4 separate regions of the Homo sapiens genome follow, and all the other regions are linked to region 4. Evidence: fine-mapped expression QTL. A gene starts in region 4. Each other region holds a variant in brackets. All regions are shown on one strand. Distances are between the middles of the regions.

Evidence for each region. PIP is the estimated chance that this variant, and not a neighbour inherited with it, causes the effect.
Region 1: its variant is the best candidate, but not a certain one, in a credible set for the expression of ROR2 in prefrontal cortex (ROSMAP, PIP 0.58).
Region 2: its variant is the best candidate, but not a certain one, in a credible set for the expression of ROR2 in thyroid (GTEx, PIP 0.57).
Region 3: its variant is the best candidate, but not a certain one, in a credible set for the expression of ROR2 in subcutaneous fat (GTEx, PIP 0.73).

Annotation. Positions count from the first base shown.
Region 1 is chr9:91,883,614-91,888,625 of GRCh38, reverse strand. All of the region lies in intron 1 of ROR2 (receptor tyrosine kinase like orphan receptor 2), which reads left to right. Among named protein-coding and RNA genes, the nearest start is that of ROR2, 64 kb to the left of the region's middle. RefSeq lists enhancers at 1,400-1,981, 1,982-2,565, 2,566-3,149. The variant C/T (reference allele first, on the strand shown) is at 2,229.
Region 2 is chr9:91,899,967-91,904,978 of GRCh38, reverse strand. The region is part of intron 1 of ROR2 (receptor tyrosine kinase like orphan receptor 2); the gene reads left to right. Among named protein-coding and RNA genes, the nearest start is that of ROR2, 48 kb to the left of the region's middle. The variant G/C (reference allele first, on the strand shown) is at 2,392.
Region 3 is chr9:91,920,961-91,925,972 of GRCh38, reverse strand. The region is part of intron 1 of ROR2 (receptor tyrosine kinase like orphan receptor 2); the gene reads left to right. Among named protein-coding and RNA genes, the nearest start is that of ROR2, 27 kb to the left of the region's middle. RefSeq lists enhancers at 3,503-4,343, 4,344-5,012. The variant T/G (reference allele first, on the strand shown) is at 2,487.
Region 4 is chr9:91,947,957-91,952,968 of GRCh38, reverse strand. ROR2 (receptor tyrosine kinase like orphan receptor 2) reads left to right here and starts at 2,741. Exons shown (of 9, transcript NM_004560.4): 1 at 2,741-3,102. The coding sequence starts at 3,006. RefSeq lists silencers at 2,168-2,462, 2,576-2,755 and enhancers at 2,949-3,448, 3,449-3,950.

The DNA.
Region 1 (5,012 bases), 64 kb after region 4:
ACGCATGGGCAGGGAGGCAGAAGTGTTGATTACAGCTTCAATCGCATCCCAGCCTGGCTTCACTTGTTCCTGGGTAGGACAGAGACATTAAGCCAGGAAGGAGTTTTAGGAGTGTCTTGCAGTAGTGGCTAGAGATCTAGGATGAAATGGTGTCTTCATTGAGTCTTGCAGGAGGGTATCAGCGTCCAGTGGAAGAGGAGGTTGTGATTCTTACCCAGGTGTGTTCCTGCATCTGCGTCCTCTAATCTGGCACTATTTGCTTCCCATTGAGCAGTGGTGTTTGTAGTCCATTGTTTGTACCTTTAAGTCTTTAAATCCATGTTCAGCTATGCTCTAAATAAATGGATCTCAAAAATATAAACAGGCAGTTCACTAGGAGGAGACCTTCCAAACACTCATGAACCTGGGAAACACAGTTAAAATCACAAGGAAGTAACATCAAATTCACAAAAGTCTAGAAAAAGCATTGATGCCATCAAATTTACAAAAATATAGAAGTCTGACAATACGAAGTGTTGGCAAAAATGTGTTATGGAGGCTGGGCATGGTGGCTCACGCTTGTAATCCCAGCACTTTGGGAGGCCGAGGCGGGCAGATCACGAGGTCAGGAGTTTGAGACCAGCCTGACCAACATGGCAAAACCCCGTCTCTACTAAAAATACAAAAATTAGCTGGGAGTGGTGGCTCGTGCCTGTAATCCCAGCTACGCAGGAGGCTGAGGCAGGAGAATTGCTTCAACCCGGGAGGCAGAGGTTGCAGTGAGTTGTGATGGCACCACTGCACTCCAGCCTGGGCGACAGAGTGAGACTCCATCTCAAAAAAAAAAAAAAAAAAAAAGAGAAAAAAAGTGTTATGGAGAGAAGAAGCTGCTGGAGGGCGTTGAATTTGTACGCCCCGTTATACCTACATTATTGGGCAATTTAGCAATTACTGGAAAAGCTGAATCATGCTTCTCCTACTCAGTGCAATTGCATTCCCAGGCATAGGTCAGAGAACCCCTCAGATAAGGGCGCAAGGAAACCATAAGGGGAATGTTCATAACAGCTTTGGAATTTGCAAAAACTGCAAGTAACCCAAATGTTCACCCACAGAACAGTGGGAAAAAACTTGTGATATATTTATTGACTGGAGCCACATGTTCAAACATAGATCTCACAGCTTAGCATTGAGCAGGAAATACAAGTTGTAGGAGGCTTGATATTTATGTAAAGGTTAAACCTATGCAAGGAAATCTTGCGTACTGCTCTGGGATACATACTGTAGGGAAGTACTATATTAATATAAACTCAGGATTGTGGGTGCCATTGGAGGGGGGCTCGAGAAAAGAATAAGCCTTTCATTTGGCCTGGTGTGTTCATTCACTTTTTTGGAATGCATCTGAAATATTACATACCAAATTAAAATACTGTGTTTCCAAACCTATAAAACCGATGGCAACTTTCAAATAATTGGATGTTAGAAATGGAACTCTCAAAAGATTTCCTCCTCCCCACGAATGTACCCTTTGCCTAGGATGGGAGGCTGTCACCTGGAGTAGCAACCCAAGGCCCTCGACCGCAGGGGTCCTAGCAAGCCTTGCCTTTGTGCATCTGCTCTGGGAGCCAGAGAAGTTGAAAGCGGCCTCACTCGGGATTTTTGAAGAGGTTGTATTTCCCGACAGTCCTGGATAAAAGACACGGCAGGCAGTCTGACTGTCAGGGGAGTCCCTTCTGGGTCTGTATTTATATATCCCTAGGAATCCTCTCCTGCGGGCTCTTAAATGGTAAGTAGTGGGTTCGTGACCTGTGGTGAGAAGAAAGATGCCCCAGCAGGTAACGTTATCTTTTCCTTTCATCTGTGAATCTCCCTGCTGCAGGCAAAGCACCCCTGAGTCCTGCAATTACGGCCTTCCCACCCCCAAGCTGAAAAACCTGATTTTCTTCAGGAGAAGAGAAACCTCATCCCGGGAGCGGAATTTGGTTTGTATTTCCCGAGTAGAGGCGGTGTGGTCAGGGATAGCTTAACCCTCCGGAGCAGCCCGGGCCGGGGGTTGCCGGGAAGGGCGGGGCGGGGGAGTGGTGGTCGCGGGTCCCCTCGTGAGGGCAGGAAGAGGCTGTGACTCGGGCGGAGGGGCTGCCGCGCCGTGCGTGGGTGCACAGTCGGTGGTGTAAGCAGAGACCCTGGTGTAGACAGATCGCGGTGTGGGGAGGAAGCAAGTGGGTGTGCAGAGGCCGTGGTGTAGACACACG[C/T]CGACGTCTACCGGCCCACGCTGTCGGTCCAGTTCTGTCTAGCTCTGCACCCTGGAAATGGCGAGGGGAGGGGGAGAATGATGGCCCTGGTGGGTCCCCGCTGGCTCCAACAATCTGGGCTGTTCACATGGCCTCCTCTCCTGCTCCTCTAAATGTGAAACCCCTTTAAGATGGCATCTTTATGTCTCCAGAAGATAAATGCGCCTTTTAAAAAGTAACCATGGCCGGGGGCGGTAGCTCATGCCTGTAATCCCAGCACTTTGGGGAGGCTGAGGCGGGTGGATCAGTTGAGGTCAGGAGTTCGAGACGAGCCTGACCAACATGGTGAAATCCCGTCTCTACTAAAAATACAAAATTAGCCGGACGTAGTGGTGCACACCTGTAATCCCAGCTACTCGGGAGAGGCTGAGGCAGGAAAATCGCTTGAACCCCGGAAGCGGAGGTTGCAGTGAGCTGAGATTGCGACATTGTTCTCCAGCCTGGGCAAGAAGAGTGAAATTCTGTCTCAAAAAAAAAAAAAAAAAAAAAAGGAAACCATACTGCTACTTAAAAAGGCACTTCCTAATATAAAATATTCACAGTTCACATTTTCCTGTTTATTTCATGAGTTTTGTTTTATTTTGTGTGTTATTCAACAGGATTTAGATAAGACCTAGGTATTTTGATTCGTTGATTTGATTTAAACGCATCACAGTGGTCATGTGGGAGAAAAATCAGAACCTTGGGGCAGGGCTTTTGTAGATCACTTTTAGGGTTCCCTGTTATTTCTATTTGGAATTACATTTTGGCGGGGACCAGCATGTTTCCAGATCTCGGTCTCACCCAGGCATTTGGCCTCTCCTTCCCTTAGGTCCCATGTCATAGCCACCCTGGTGCAGGCCCAGGCGGGAGCCACACGCTGCTCAGTCCTGGGGAATCCCAAGCCCCTCCACTCTGTGCAAGGAATGGAGATAATGGGCTGAGAATTAGGTTTTATTAAAAGCAAAGCCCTTGAAGGATGGTTATTCCCGCCTGGAGATCCCACAGTAGGGCCTTTGGAGTGATAGACATCCCCATCTCCCTCCACACCCTGCCCTACCGCCCCCCAACCCCCAAAGCTTCAACAAAGGCTCCTTTTTAAAGTTTTCCGGTGCCCTTTGCTCTTTGTTTGCCTTCCCGCTTTGTTCTCTGGCCAGCTGCAGGCCACACTGCCATTTGGAAAGGAGTTTCCTTGGGTTTGATTGACAAATGGGAGAGAATTGGGATGCAGAGGCTCATGCCTTCCAGAGAATATTTTGGAGAAAGGTGGGAACTAGAGAGAGCTGCTGGCTTTGCAATGTTGGGTTCTGAGAACTACCAGGGGTGGGGTTCGTGAGCCACACACAGGCTTGTTAGCTCTTTAAGTTCGCGAGGCTTTAAGTTCTTAAGGCTTTGTAAGCTTGCAGTGATAACACAGAAAATACCAAGTTAAGGCAATAAAATGGTCTCCCCAACCAACTGATCACTTCCCAGCACAGGAAGTTGATGACTTAATTTAGAAAATATGATTTTAAAAATTGGCCTCAAAGCGTTTTTGGACTCAGTTCTGTGCATGTTAATATGTATCCAGATTATATCCTGACATTCATTTAGAAAAAAAAAAGACTAAAAAATTTTGCCAAACTGGAAATGGAGACATGTTATGGTCTGTGGATGGGAAGAGTCTTGAATGTGTATGACAGCCCGCAGGATGTGTTAGCTCCAGTTCCAGCCAAAAATCCAAGAGAGTAATGAGTTTGTCAGATATCGTCAGATCAGGGAGAAGATTTAGATAAAACCCTTCAGCATTAATATTCTGGCAATATTAAAAATTATCTTAGAAAACCAGGCCTGGGGATTGGGGAATGGAGAATACAGAATTTCTGTACCTAGAAGGCCCCCCGCAAGCCTTTTTTTTTTTTTTTAAAGGTAATCAAAGGTAAGTGGAGAGTAAGTAATTCTTTTTGTAGGCCAATTAGACAAGTCATGCCTGAAGCCTCCCCCCACCCCCCATGACTCCTGGAGGAGACTGAGACTCCCTGTCACAGGGGTACCCACCAACACACATCCCTGCTGGTTGAGATCTAAAATGCTTATCTGAACAGCCTTGGCTGGTCTGTTGCTGCCTGTGTTTATTTGGATGTATTTCAGCAGAAGCCATCACACAGACAGGAGAGGTGGGTTTTATGAGATGGTGTTGAATGAGGGACAGGTCAAACTGAAACCTAATTGACAGATGATCAGATTGGTGAAACCAGAGAGAAAAGAAAGGGATTAGTACTCAAGTACCTTGACTTCAGAAGTACAGAGCTTCCCTTTGGTGACTCCTTCAGCTCCATTTTTGTTGAGTGAGCTTTGGTTCTAGCTCCGTGGTAGGATGGTGAGTGTGCTTTCTCTCTGGGTTTCTTTTGTGTACTTGTCTCAATGGCCATAACATGGCACTGCATTGGTGTGAAATCCCCTGAGATTTTACCTCCAGATGCAACTCATGCTAGATAGGGGCCCTGGGTAGGGGGCTGAGAAGGGGGTTCCGAGGCCACCAGGACCTTGGAAGGGGAAGGGATTTTGGTGGTGATTTAAGCGCTAGCAAGGGCTCTGTTGGAAATGATTCACTAACTTCCTGCAAGGACACTTCAGAGGTGTGATGGGCAGTAGTACAGTGGGTGGGGTGTGTTTCTTGTTTGGAGTGAGAGAGGGTTCTGGTGCGTAGGAGTCTCATTCCAAGGCCTCTTGTCCATCAAATTCTGTTGGGCAGCACTGTCCAATAGAATTTTCTACAATGATAGA
Region 2 (5,012 bases), 48 kb after region 4:
GTGTGGCATGTGACATTTGTGTATGTCTTGTGTGTGGTGTATGTGCTGTGTGTGTGGTGTGTGTGCGCACACGTGTGTTCTGCAGCTGTGCACCTTGGAGCCGTCCCAGGTAGTAAGCCAGAATGGAGGCAATAATGAGTGATGAGCAGTTTGTTTTTTCCCTTTTTGGAGGCTTTGCCTCATTAACTTGGAACCAGAGGTTCCTGAGGCCACGGGTGGCAGAGTCGAGGAGGCCTCCAAAGCCAGCAGTGGAGCGTAGGAGCCAGGGCGCTGGGGTGGAGATGGGATCTTTACAGCCTGGAAGGGACATCCTGTGTGTCTTGCTGCCTGCCACTGGGTGCCCTCCTATAGTGTTGGTGGCTGCTCCAAGCGCCAAGGCACCCCCACCATGGGCCTGAAGCCTGATTCCACTTCCTTGCTCCACAAGGCTGGGCCACCCTCTGCCTGGTCTCTCCAGGCTGTGACTGGATGGCTTTTCTCCAGGGCGATGGCCTGTTGGTCGTGGCGCAGGTCCTACCGCTCCCTACCCCAGCCCTTGGGCCTTCCAGCCCTTTATGGACTGAGCCCGCCTGACTGGAACATTCTTGGGCTCTTGGTGCTAGGAGGGCAGTGGGCTCCACCCGCTAAACTTGTGGCATCCTCAGGTCAGGTGAACAAGGCACAATGGAGGCAGGGAGCTCTGAGTTTCTGATCTGAGGAACCTCCTCACCCCGGGATCCTTCCATGATCCCTGGTGCCAAATCTGGCTTTGTGGTTAAAAAAGGATGACCTGGGCCCGGGTGTGGTGGTGCATGCCTGTAATCCCAGCTACTCGGGAGGCTGAGGCAGGAGAATTGCCTGAACCTGGGAGGTGGAGGTTGCAGTGAGCCGAGATCCTACCACTGTACTCCAGCCTATGCGGCAGAGCGAGACTCTGTCCCCCCCCCCAAAAAAAAACAAAAACAAAAACAAAAAATCAAAAAAAAGGATGACCTGTCAGGGCAGTGATTCCTACCTTGTGGGATGGTTCACATGTTTCTTTGAATATCTAAAACCACTCTCCTTTAAAAATATTTCAGCTGTTCACTGACTGTATTTTTGGAAATTAAATGGATATTGTTTTGAGAATGCAGCAATATCCCTTTAAATACGTAAAATAAGTATGGGCATTTTATTGCCGTGGACTCTCTCCACGACCCCAGTCTGAGGTATTTTTATGAGCTCCTAGTAAACCCCGTCTCAAGCCAATTGCGTTTGTTTTTGTTCCTCTTTGTCTACAGAGTTGTCGAATGCTCACCGGGAAGGGGTGGGCAGTTGTCCCTTTGGGGATGTTGAGAATGTGGGGAAACCACTTCCCATTTGCTGACTTAGGGGCTGGTTTAGGAGAAAATCTTTGTTCTTCCCTTTACAGAAAATATTTAGGTTGGGGTTGTTTGTTCCAGAAGTGTCTGCCTTGAAAATACTCCATGGAAGAATTTGGAGATGTAGGAATGGCTTAAGTTTTGACTTGAGGAGAAAAAAAAAAGACACAACGAATCGACTTCTTGGGGCCACAGACCACTCCAGCAGCCTCATTTCCATTTATTTTGGGGGCTTGTGTTGTAGAAGTGAGTTGATGCCCGATGGGAAGAACTGGAGCAGATCACCCTTCCCAGACTTTCTTGGGCAGGGGAAGCCAGCGGGTTGGGGTGTGGGCATCTGAGACCCCTCCATGCAGCATCTATCTGGGTTCCTCCTGGGCCGACTGCAGTCAGGGGCACAGAAAAAAAATCCTGTTGCTCTCTGGATGTGGCAGTTTTAATTTTCCATGCACTCATACTTTAGGGGAGAACATGTATTTTTTTTATTTGCTTTTGTTTAAGTATATGTATTTTTTTCTTTATCATAGTAAAATATGCATATCATGGAATTTACCATCATAAGTATTGTTTGGTGGCATTAAATGCATTCATATTGTTTTGCAACCATCACCGCCATCCACAGAACTCATTTCATCATCCCCGACAGAAACTCTGCACCCATTAAATAATGCCTCCCCCATCTCCTCCCCCAGACCCTGGCAGCCACCGATTCTACCTTCTGTTTCTATGCATTTGACCACCCTAGGGACCTTGTAGAAGTGGAACATGCAGTCTATGTCCTTCTGTGACTGGCCCGGTTCCCTTAGCATGCCTTCGAGGCTTATCCATGTTGCAGCATGTGTCAGATTTCCATTCCTAAGGATATGGTTTTTAAATAGTCATTTGTTTTGCCAGTGCAGATAAAATGTTTACATATTAACTCCATGCTGATGAAGCGGTTTCTTCTTACAGTGAGCTTAACAGTGTCCCTTTCTTGTTGCTTCAGTTGAGACTGAGCTCTCCAACTGATGCTGGATGTCTCAGGGAGGGCCCCATGGTGTCTGTTGGGGGT[G/C]GGGGCAGGGTCGCCCAAGGAGGGCCCTTGGTGTTAACGGAGATCCTTGGCAGTTCAGGAGGTCTCAGGCGGCTCACAGCCACGACCACCCAGCTCCCCATCGGGAACTGCTTTTGAGATCTGTTTTCAGTAGGGGCCTGAGGCGTGGGAAGGCCCTGGCTGTGAGAGGTACAAGCAGGGTGGGCTTGGTGGAGAGGTGATGGAGGGCCTGGGATTTGGGTTTCCTGGAGGGAAAGAAGGGAAAAGACCCTGACAGCGAAGGGGAAGTTTACTTCATTTTGTGATACCTGAGGATAGAAATTGAGCTTTGGTTTAGAAATGAGATATTTCTACTATGAAGAAAGAATTAAAGGAAAATTGAGAAAACCTTTAAAAATAATTGTTTCTCCTTCCTCTTCTTTGTTGTGTGAGTATGCATCTCTTACTTGTTGACTACTTAGATGAATCAGGCCGTCATCTGTGGTGGGGAGCCCTTGTGAGTTACTAAATATTTCATCTCCATGAGCCCCAGTTTCTGCATCTGAAAAATAGGAATGTTAACCGTTGTGTGGATTAAATGTTGGGACTGGTTGAATGAATTGAGGGAGGTATTCTGTGCGAATGGCCTCTTTTCAAGTGCCTCTGGCTCTGTTGGCCTGCTGCTCCAGAATTGAGGGTAGGCCCCCCCACCTACACCTGGCAAAGGTACAACTGACTTTTCCTCACACAGTAGCTATGGAAAAATAAACAAAGCTCCTTTTTATTTTTTGCTTTTTTTTTTTTCAGAGCACTCTTTTTTTTTTTTGAGATGGAGTCCCAGGCTGGAGTGCATTCGTGAGATCATGGCTCGCTGCAACCTCCACCTCCTGGGTTCAAGCAGTTCTCCCGCCTCAGCTTCCTGAGTAGCTGGGATTACAAGCGCATGCCACCATGCCTGGCTAATTTTTGTATTTTTAGTAGAGATGGGGTTTCATCATGTTGGTCAGGCTGGTCTCAAACTCCTCACCTCAGATGATCCGCCTGCCTTAGCCTCCCGAAGTGCTGGGATTACAGGTATGAGCCACCACACCCATCCCAGAGCACTTTTATTTTTAACCCCCTGTAGAAGGCAGATAATGTACTGAGCCCACATTTGAAATGACGTGAGCCTTTTCTCCTGTTGGAAAACAAAGATCTTAGTTCTAAGTGGGTGGGAAGATAAGCCAGTGAGGAAGGACACTGTTGGTTTGATTATACTTGAGGCAACTAGTAAACTATCACTACCTCCTAGTTATTGGTGTTTCATGATATCCCACAGGTATCAGAAACATTCACAAACTACTGACATGCAGATTTGCATTTCCCATGGGTACAGTTGGAGATAGTCTAACTTATACTAAATATGCTGTATAATTTATGTGTTATACATACCATGTAACATAGTATACCTATTTATAGTATAGTTTGCATTTCAGAAGAATATAGTTGGGCTGTCAAGTAACACAGTTTTACAAGACAGTTCTTTTCTCTAGTTGAAGGATGGTGGAGTGGAGGGGGATTCTGCCCGACCTTCCTGGCTCTGGATTCAGTCTGGCTGAGCTGAGGGGCCCCTTGTGCAGCTTCCTCGTAGTACACATTAAAAACCCTTCAGCTTAAAAAACAATCTGCCCAGAAAAGGGATTTATAGTCCAGTATCTGATTAAACGATGTGTGTTTCAGTTCCCAGAACTTTGCTTCCTAGTTGCTCTTTTTAATTAATAATGGATTTCCTTCTTAAAAACAGATGTGCATTCTTGGCTTATTATTTTTTTCCCTTCAAGCTGGAACCTATGCCTCTGTTTGCACAGAATTGAGGTGTGAAGTGGGTCTAATGGTCCTGACAATTTGAAGGACTTTTAAGCCTGTGGTTTTGTGACAAGTGCTGACTCTAGGTGGGAGTGGCCTTGGCGGCCCAGCTGCCCCCAGTCCATGGAACCGACGTGCCCCGCGAGGAGTCCTCTCCTGGGGCCTGTCCTGGTTCACTGTCAGCACTCTCTTCCAGAAGCTTGTCGTTTTCCCGCCTCCTTGGCTGCTTTTGAATGTTCTGGATGCCACGCGGTGCCTTCCTCATTTCTTGTTTCCTGCGGGTCCCACGTGCAGGCCCGGCGCCCTCGTGTCCCTGCCAGCCTCTCTTGCTCCAGGCAGCCGGAGGATTGCCCCGCGCCGCCACCGTTCCCTGCGTGGGGGGGCCTGCGCCAGGGTCGGCTGCCTGCTGTGCCTCTCAGCCGCTGTCATTGACCATCTTGTGCGGGAGGCAGCTGGAGGACTTGCGTCTGCCGTCTGCCCTTCCTGCAGCCCCTTGCGGCGTCCAGTTTGCTTCTGCTTCTGCGCTTGGGCCTCTGGATGCGAGGCTGCTGGGGCCCTGCCCCCCACCCCCTGGCGGCCCTGGGGGACCCGCTGCATCCTGAGCTTATCTGGGGGCCTGCCCAGCACTGGAGGGAGGCTTATCTGGAGCCCTGCTGACTTGCTGTCTGTCAGTTTGCAGGCTTTAAAACTTATCTTACTGGTGAGTGCATCTAGTGGGTTCCAGGCTGGCATTCTTTTGGTCTCTAGGTACTTATCGATTAATGTTTTACTAAATTATCAAGCCTGCATTCACAGGTCAAATGTAGATTTTATACTTT
Region 3 (5,012 bases), 27 kb after region 4:
CGCGCCAGGCCTAGGATGTCTTCTTAAGTGTGCACGCAAATCATGCAGGAGAAATTAGGCAGAGTGCGTGGAAGCCAAGTGACTTGTTTCTCACCAGGAGGAAACCCCATCTCTGAGGTCAGTTGGTGGCTTCTCTACCCAGGTGTCTGTTGAACCCAGAGTGGTGTCACACCTCAGGATCGGTCCCCCAAATTCTGTGCAATGAAAGGGTAGAGTGAGCGAGTTTTCTTCTCTCTGGCTCTCTGGCAAGCACTCTTGACATAGGATTGCTGTTACTCTGTATTTGAGTTCCTATGGATTATCCATCTGTTGGTTTTCTGCCATCCAAGAAACTTAGGTGTGTGCATGTATTTGGGGTTGGAGGATAAGGATGGCGAGGGCATTGGGAATTGGGGCTTGTGTGGAGGTAAGTCATAAGTTTGAGAAGAAATGGGTGCATGTGCCAGGCACCAAAACAAGTGCATATGCATGCTGCACACACACACACACACACACACACACACACATACAGGCAGCTGACAGCATTGTCAGGGGTGTGTACCTGTGAGCTCACTTGTGCTGAGCAAGGACAGAGCTTGCCGAGCTGGGGGCTGGGTCTCGTGGGCTTGGGCTGAGCTGTTGGGATGGCTGAAGGCTGTATCTTGGGGGAAGTGCGTTCTTGAGAGCTGTGTAAGTTAATGTCTATGAGATGAGCAGATGGTTGGTGTCATGAGGGTGTCCTCTTCTAGAAGACTAGGGCCCTACAGCGATGGTTCTCTCAGTGGTGTCTCTGGACCACTGGCATCAGCATCACCTGGGAGCTTGTTAAAAATGCAAACATGGTCAGGTGCAGTGGTTCACACCTGTAATCTCAGCACTTTGGGGGAGGCCAAGATGGGAGGATTACTGAGCCCAAGAGTTTGAGACCAGCCTGGGCAACATAGTGGGATCCTATCTCTACAAATAATAATAATAATAAAAAATAGCCAGGTGTGGTGGCTCGTGCCTGTGATCCCAGCTACTTGGGAGGCTAAAGTGAGAGGATTGCTTGAGCCTGGGAGGTTGAGGCTGCAGTGAGGTATGATTGTGCCACTGCACTCCAGCATGTATGACAGAGCTAGACCCTGTCTCAAACAAACACACAAACAAAACAAAAAAAGCAAACTCTTGGGCCTGCCCCGCGTCTGTTGAATCAGAATTTTTTTTTTTTTTAGATGGAGTCTCGCTCTGTCGCCCAGGCTGGCGTGATCTTGTCTCACTGCAAGCTCCGCCTCCTGGGTTCCCGCCATTCTCCTGCCTCAGCCTCCCAAGTAGCTGGGACTACAGGCGCCCGCTACCACGCCTGGCTAGTTTTTTGTATTTTTAGTAGAGATGGGGTTTCACCGTGTTAGCCAGGATGGTCTCGATCTCCTGACCTCGTGATCCGCCCGCCTCTGCCTCCCAAAGTGCTGGGATTACAGGCGTAAGCCATCGTGCCCGGCCTGAATCAGAAATTTTGAGGTGAACTCAGCAATCTGTGCCTCTCTAATGCACGTAAAAGTTGAGATCCACTGGCTGTGATTCCCATAGAGGGCCTGGGACAGGAGGACGCAGGCAGAAGCCACTGGCCTTGAAGCTGCCTGTCACTCCACCACAAGGGACTGAGACCCGATGGACACCTTCCTCCAGTCCTCCCCTTGCCTCTCTCCACCGCAGGGACTAGGAGGGATGGCCGGGCAGTCCCCAGCGTGACCACAGGATGCCTGATGTTGGGAGTGGGGACAAAGGATAGGAAAAGGGCTGGGCAGCAGGAGGGATCACCTACCATGGAGGACAAAGACCTTGCCCTCAAGTGTCCCTCCCATTCATGGAGTACCAGCTCAGTTCTACTCAGTGCAGACAGGCAGCAGAACAGCAGCTTGGGGAGAGCAGGAAAGAATCAGCTGCCAATGTTGTAGTGGAGACGGATTTCAGGGCCTGATGAGGGTCCAAGTATGGACTGCAATTGGGATGCATGAGAACATCCTCAAACCCTGGAATAGGAAGGCACCCATGTGCCCTGATTTCTCCTCGGCTCTCATTCCAGGAGCCACACAGGACAGTTGACCCAACACTTCTGCCACCTGAAGAACGACACCTGCATTCCTCCATCTCTGGGACCACCAAGGAACTCAGGGAGCTTGGAATCTCTCAGATCAAAAAGATACTGACTCATCGGATAGCCATGCCATCCTGAAAACGGCCTTCCTTGTGTGTACATTATTTGCAACAAGCAACAAGTTTATAAGCACTTTGGTAAAATTGCATGTGAGGGTTAAAATATTAAAGTCAGTGCGTCAACTTGAAATAAATGATGAGTTATTGATTACTGCTAAAGAAAAAATGTAATATTTGTGGTCCTGTTATGGTTTAGATGTGAATTTTAAAAAGAAAGCCTTTGTTCAGAGTTTTGCACATTTCCTCAACCCTGGGTCTCCAGAGCTTTGTTTTGCTTGCCAAGTCTTAAATTAGCCATCTGCAAATTTCCT[T/G]ACCTTGGGTATTTCTGGATATAGGAGGATGCCCAGGGTGTGCATTGTTCTGTAGCTGTACCGTCCAATTGATAGCCATTAATCACATGTGGCTATTTAATTGAAGTTAACTCAGACTGAATAAAATTACAAACAGACCCTTGGCTGCACTAGCCAAACTTAAGTGCTCAGTTGCCACATACCACATGTGGCTGGAGGCCACACTGGACAGTGGAGATAGAGACACTCTCCCTCTTCACAGCAAGTTGGGCAGTGCTGCTTTATACTGCCTCATCCCCAGCATTTTGGCCAGTCATAAGTACTTTCTGAGCACCTGCTCTGTGCCTAGAGGCTGCTAACTTGTTAGCTTATTGAATAAAATACATTGGGCATCTTCTCTGTCCAGGTGATCACTGAATTCCTTGGCATAGCTACTTAGGTAACAGACATCTATTCTTTGGCATGAGGGAGAGGCTTTATGTATGTGAAGATGGAATGGAGCTGTATTGGGCAGTGGGGAGTGGGGAGGTCATGCCCAGCAGAAGTGAGGCAGAGTGAGTCTGTTGGAGGACAGGGCTTTGAGAGGCAGGCTGCCCCAGTGTGCACCCAGAAAGGAGGGCAAAAGGCTGAGCAGCTGGACTGGGGTTGGATGCAGCAGCTATGCAGCTGATTTGGAGAGCCTGACATGAGAGGACACTGAGGAGTCGACAGGTTTTGGAGAAGATTCCCATCTAATAGTTTTAAAAAATATTCTTGGTCGGGCGCGGTGGCTCCTGCCTGTAATCACAGCACTTCAAGAGGCCAAGGCAGGTGGATCACGAGGTCAGGAGATCGAGACCATCCTGACTAACATGGTGAAATCCTGTCTCTACTAAAAATACAAAAAATTAGCCGGGCATGGTGGTACGCGCCTGTAGTCCCAGCTACTTCGGAGGCTGAGGCCGGAGAATCGCTTGAACCTGGGTGGTAGAGGTTGCAGTGAGCTGAGATCATGCCACTGCACTCCAGCCTGGGCAGCAGAGTGAGACTCCATCTCAAAAAATAAAAAATAAAAAAATTATTTAAGTAGAACAACATTCAGTATGGACATCAAACTGTTGATATTTAACCTGTTTCTTATTTGATTGCAAGGAAGATGGGACTCAGAGAAGACGCTGTTGATTTCCAAGTAACATTTCATTCACAAGTCTTCAATTTCTTTTGGGTACATACCTAGCAGTAGAATTTCGGATCACATGGTCATTCCATGTTTTTTTTTTTGGGGAACTGCCAGACTTTTCCACAGTGGCTGCACCATTTTGTATTCTCACCAGCAGTATTCCAGGGTTTTAATTTCTCTACGTTCTCAACAGTACTTGTTTTCTGTTTTTGTTGTTGTTGTTTGTTGTTGTTGTTGTTGTTGTTGTTGCTGTTGTTTGGTTTTTTGGTAATAGTCGTCCTAGTCCTAATGGCTGTGGAGTGGTCTCTCATTGTGATTTTGATTTGCATTTTCCCAGTGACTAATGATGACATCTTTTCATGCTCTTTTTGGCCAGTTGTGTATTTTTTTTTTTTGGAGAAATGTCTATTCAGATCCTTTGCCCAATCTCACCTTGGGTTGTCTTTTTATTATTGTTGTTAGAGTTTCATTTACTTTTTTTTTTTTTTTTTTGAGACGGAGTCTCTGTTGCCCAGGCTGGAGTGCAGTGGCGCGATCTTGGCTCACTGCAACCTGTCTCCCGGGTTCAAGCGATTCTCCTGCCTCAGCCTCCTGAGTAGCTGCGACTACAGGCGTGCGCCGCCACGCCTGGCTACTTTTGTGTTTTTAGTAGAGACAGGCTTTCACCATGTTGGCCAGGCTGGTCTCCTACTTCTGACCTCAAGTAATCCACCCGCCTGGGCCTCCCAAAGTGCTGGGATTACAGGCGTGAGCTACCACACCCGGCTTCATTTACTTTTAAAAGACTAAACATTACCATCCCCTTGAAGTTAGAAGGGAAGAACTTGGTGACACAAAGAGGCCTGCGGCTTGGTCTGCAATTAAGCACAGGCTCTTGAAAAGTGTCCTCTTTTGCCAGTGTGGTTTGGGATTTCCACAGCCTCTGCATTCTATTCCTGATTCTGCTTTACTTTTGCCATATATGTAAGTGTGTGTATACGTGTATATATTTAAGAACGGAGGAAAAAATATAATTACTTTTAATTTGGAATTCCTGTTTTAACTTTCCCCTATATTAAAGAAGGACTGATTTTGCATGTACTTAGGCTGAAGTAGCCACTTCTTTGTTGATATGGGGTTGAGGTCTTGATTCATTTTTTCCTGCAGGTCAGAGAGCACTAGGACATGCCCAGGGCCAGTTTGTGGGACCCTTTGTGGGGAAGGGACAGTGCTTCTCCTGTCCGCTACTTCTTGTGGCTGGCCACCTGCCATTTGGCACCTGGTTGAGGATGGGACATGAGTGTCCACTCCACAGTGCTGTGTTCACCCCCTCGGGTGGAGGTCCAGTTTGTTGGCAATGATACTGCACACAAGCTGTCTGAGGCTTGGCTATCCTAAACAGTCTCTGG
Region 4 (5,012 bases):
GGCTAACGGCCAATAAGCATAAGAAAAAATATAGAATATGACTCCTCATCAGGAAAATGTGAATTAAACCACATAATTTAACCACCCAGGTCTCAGATATCCCAGGATACCCCTGGCCTTGAAATCTTCACACTGGCTCTTCACTCCAGCTCAAATACTCTTCCCAGATATGTGCATGGCTCCCTCCTTTCTTAAGGCCTGCAAGGGCTTGTTCCCGCCGGTCTTGCTAGTATAGACCCTGCTCATTTTCTCTCCCTCTTGCTTGCTGTTCATCACAAGGATGAAAATGGCTGTCCCCATACAGCTGGTGTGGTGTCAGCCTCCAGTGATTCCTATCTCTTGGTATATATAAACCTGTTTAGTTTCCTTCTATGACAAAGGGCCCACCCATGGAGCCAATAGATACTGCAGAAATTATGGCATGTGACTTCCAAGGCTAGGCTATAAAAGACACTGTGGCTTCTATCTGGCTCTCTTTTGGATTGCTCACTTTGGGAGAAGCTAGAAGCCATCTTGTGAGGATGCCCAAGAAGCCCACGTGGCTACAAACTGAGTCTTCCCATCCACACCTAGCACTAACTTGCTGAGCATGTGAGTAATCCACCTTGTGAGACTCCTCTAGCCCCAGCGAGCCTTCAGATAATGGCAGCACTGGCTGACATCTGACTGCAACCTCCTGAGAGACCCTGAGCCAGCACCATCTAGCTAAGTCTCTCCTGCCTTCTCGACCCAGAGAAATGGTGTGAAATAACGAATGTTTACTGTTTTTAGCTGTTAAATCGTGGGGCAATTTGTTATGTGGCAATTGATGACTAATACAGATGGAAAGGAATATGTTGCTCCAATTTGGCCTTGGACGTAAGCCATATTCTCTTAACCACTGAGAAAGCTTGTATTTTCATCCTTCCAACTTTGCTTTTTTTGTTTATCCTTCAGTTCAGAACCTACAGAAAGGGAAGGAGAGAGTGAGAGAGAAATGCCAAAAAAGAAAGCTTTAAAAGGCTTTTAAGAAATCATATGCAATATAACCCACATTTCTGACTCCACCCAAGAAACTGTCAGCAAAATATATGTTGCTGTTTAAACCTTTGAGTTGGGTTTGTGGGGCCTCAGTCATGTGAAAATAACACACAGATGGGGGCATGATGAGGTCATTTTCCTGAAGGTCACACAAAAATAAATGGCAGGGCTGCTGATGAAATGGTTCTGGAGCCACATGCTCACGCTGTGTGAAGTGGAAAGCAAAGGTGCTGGGACCACCTTCTCCGAGCTGCACAGCACCACGGAAAGGACACAGCATTGCTGAGGGAGGGGTTTTCCAGGGCAGGTTCAAGACCCTTCTCTGCAGCCCCTGTTGGGTTTTCCCTAGATCCAGAAGAGAGGGGTGTGGAACTAAGTGCTTCAGCACCTACTCTTAAAACATTACTCTAAAAGCATCCTTAAGGATTCTAAGGGAAGCTAAAGGGAGGAAAACCCCAAAGATAAACCCCTGGCAGTCCTCTAACCACTGGGGAGAGCAGCCCCCCCGTTCAGACCCGCACCAGCCTGGGCAGAGGAACAGCCTGAGCCCGTCTAAGAAGTTTGGTAATAATTTTGCCATCCAGTTGAGGAGGGGCTAGGATCTTCTCCCATTCTCCTACTGGATTTACAGCAGCTCCTGGGAATGAGAACTGCGTGAGATATTTCCCTACACAAATTGGGTAGAGATAGCCGGACGCCTAAATACTTTTAACAGAGGTAACAAGCTAGAGCTGGCTTAGTCATTTTGTCCGCAGACCATAGCAAGAGAGTTTTTATTTCTGGCCACGTCTGAGGCCTCACGTCTGGCACCCAAGGCCAGGGCTCTCCCTAATGCCCTCCAATTAACAGAGCTTGGTACTCCAGCAAAAACACCAAACAAACTGCTGGATAATCAGTTAAAAGATCAATCTCATGGAACAAGCAACTGAGATGCTGGAGAATCCAATTCCTTCCTCTAAGAGGAAAAACAAAGACATTTGCATGTGCTGAGCAAAACCAAGAATAAGCAAGAAAACATGCTATTTGAATTCCGTTCAAAATGTCTCTAATAAGTGAAGCAAATTCTGCACATTCTGGGCCTCTGCAGAGAACAAATAGTGTTCTGCCTTTAATGGGTAAAATTATACAATTTGCTTTTAACAGTAAACCAAAAGCCGCGGTGGCTTCGGATAGCATCGCGCTCCCGAGGGCTCCCTCCACGCAGCTCGACCCCTGGCAGTTTTGAGCATTTCGGGGGACGCGCTTGTCCCCACCGACCTGGGAGGGCGCCGGTGCCAAGGCGGCCTGTTTGTTTTCCTGAACATTTCCTTTTGCAACTTTCGCTTCTCCTCTTCCTGCCTCACCGCTGGTGTCTGGGGCTGGGTGGCTCTCAGATTTGTCCCGGTGCGCAGTGCAGCCTGGAGTTACTGATTTGTGACCTAGATCCCCGGGTGTGTCGCCCCCGAAAGTCGGGGGCACCCGCTCTGGGCGCCTCTCCTGCGTGGGCAGACCCGCCGAACTCCGGCTGACGCCCCCAAGGCGCCACCTTTGTGTTCAAGCGTTCCGAGGCGCAGGCCCGAGGGCGGGCGCAGGAGGCAGGTCCGGGGCCCCAGCTGCAGCCCCAGCTCCTTGGGTCCCGCCCGCCGCCCGCGCGTTCCCCCGGCAGGGGGCGCCGGCGCAAGCCTCGCTCTGCCCATCGGGGCGGGCGAGCGGGGACCCTGCCTCCTGCGCGCTCGCCCGCGGTCCGCCCCCCGCGCTCGTCCTGGCGGCCGGCGGGACGCCCCAGCCCGCGCCAAGGAACCTCCCCAGCCAGCCCTTGCCGTGGCCGGAGCCGAGCGGCGCATCCGGGCCGGAGAAGAGGACGACGACGAGGTCCTCGAAGTGGACCCGTTTGCGAAGCGCCAGGGAGAAGGAGGAGCGGACGCATCGTAGAAAGGGGTGGTGGCGCCCGACCCCGCGCCCCGGCCCGAAGCTCTGAGGGCTTCCCGGCCCCCACTGCCTGCGGCATGGCCCGGGGCTCGGCGCTCCCGCGGCGGCCGCTGCTGTGCATCCCGGCCGTCTGGGCGGCCGCCGCGCTTCTGCTCTCAGTGTCCCGGACTTCAGGTAGGATCTGGCGTTCCGGCTTGTGCGCAGACGGTAGCTCACGGCTCGCTTGGCCAGCCCTTCCGCCGCCACTATGCTCCCGGCCGCTGCGCCGGCGCCCATGCTCCTGAACGAGGGGCGCCAGGCAGGGCCATTCGCATCTCGCCCGACGCCGCTCCCGGCCCGCACCCCGGACCCCCTCGGGCTGGTTACAATAAGCCGCGCTCTGGGGACGCCTAAGTGTTTCCAGAGTCTGGGGGCGGGCGGCGGCGGCTGGGAGCCTCTCGGTGGCGCTTCCCGAGGGTCGCGAGTGGGAGTGCGAGTGTGAATGTGAGTACCCGCCCTGGGCCCGGGACCCGAGTCCGCAGATGTGCCCCGAGGGTCCCAGGACCCGGGCTTCCTCCCCGAGGTCTTCCTCCTTCAAGGGCACACGGCCCCGAGTGTCCCCCGTCTGTCTCGGAGCGTCCCCCCACCCCCAGGGCGGCCTGATGCCTGGCAGAATCCTGGGGTGGACGTGGCCCCGGAGAAGCGGCTCTTGCGGCGGGGGTGGGGGCGCCGGCGGCTCCCGGGTCCTGACTTTCCCAGCCCGCGGGCCGCTTGATGGAAACGGGCTCTTTGGCATCCCTTTTGTTGGTCCCTGAAACCTCCTCTCCCCCACCGCTCTGGGGTGGCCGAAGTGGTGTGTGATCTGGATTGAAATGGTTTGTGACTGGGATCGCGGGTCCCTGAGCGGCTGGGGCGCGGCCGCCTTCTGGCCGCGCCGGGGGGACCCCCGGGACCTGTAGGAGGCTGGCGGCGGGAGGGGCGGGGCCCGGCTCCTAGGTGGGTTTCCTCCCGGGGCCCCACTTCCCCCGAGTCCCTGCGCGGTTTCGGCTGCTTGGATCCGGGGCGCAGAGGAACGGCGGGGAGGTTCGGAAGTGCAGCTTGGGACCTGCCTAGGTTGCCTGGAGGAGGCGGCGTTAGCTCTGGCGGTGCAGACTCCGGGAGCACCTCCCGCCCGCGCGCCTCGGGCCGGATTCTCGGCACCCTGCGGGGGTGGAGGAGGGCGGGCGGGGCCTTCAGGCCCAGGAGCGCCAGAGACCTATGGGGTTCGCCTGAAGCCCCCGGAATGTGTGAGACACTTCTTACTAGTAAATGGGCTTCAGTATCCCCCATCCCTGCACTCCTGCAGGAAGGTGAGAATCGGGACAGTCGCAGGCTGGGAGACGCTCTGCTTTTCCTGCGTCCTGCTGGGAGCTGCGCGCTCCAGGTATCCTGGCCTGCCGCCCTAGCCGGCCCAAGGTACGCGAGTCAGAAAGGCTGCACAGTCTTTCCTGGGGGGGGGTTTTAGTTTAAGCAGATGTTGATTACGTCAGACATTCCTAATTACTTGATTTGGGAAGGGAGCTTGCGTTTATCTCACTGTGCATTAAAGCATAAACCGCTCAGAGTGCACAATAAAATAAGTAGACCACATTCTAAGTTGGTATCCATCACTCAAGACCTCTGTCGATTTCTGCAACCCCTCCCCCAAGAATCTCCCAGGAGATCCCTTTGCTGGGGGAGAGGGGTGGCGGGGAGGCGGCTTAAACACGTTGCTGGACGTGCTGTTGGGCGGCTTTTGCTGTTCACCCTGCGGTTAATTGTCCTACAAAAACTCTGCCTTGCAGACCATGAGGGTTGAGCGCAGCCTTTGAGGGGCGGTGCTGTGGTGGGGGTTTTTAGATGGGTGATGAGGAAAGCATGATGGGTCCATTGCTTAAGCCAAGGTGGTTGTAACAGGAAAGTTCCTTGAGTTTTGGGTGAAGGAATTTAAACACTCATAGTTTCCAGTGAATGTACAAATGTCTTATATGAACAAAGCAATTGGAGTCGTTTTCTTTAATTTTTGAACCCTGTTCTTTTTCTAGTGAAATACTCATAATCTTTATAGGAGAGGGCATAGGATATAA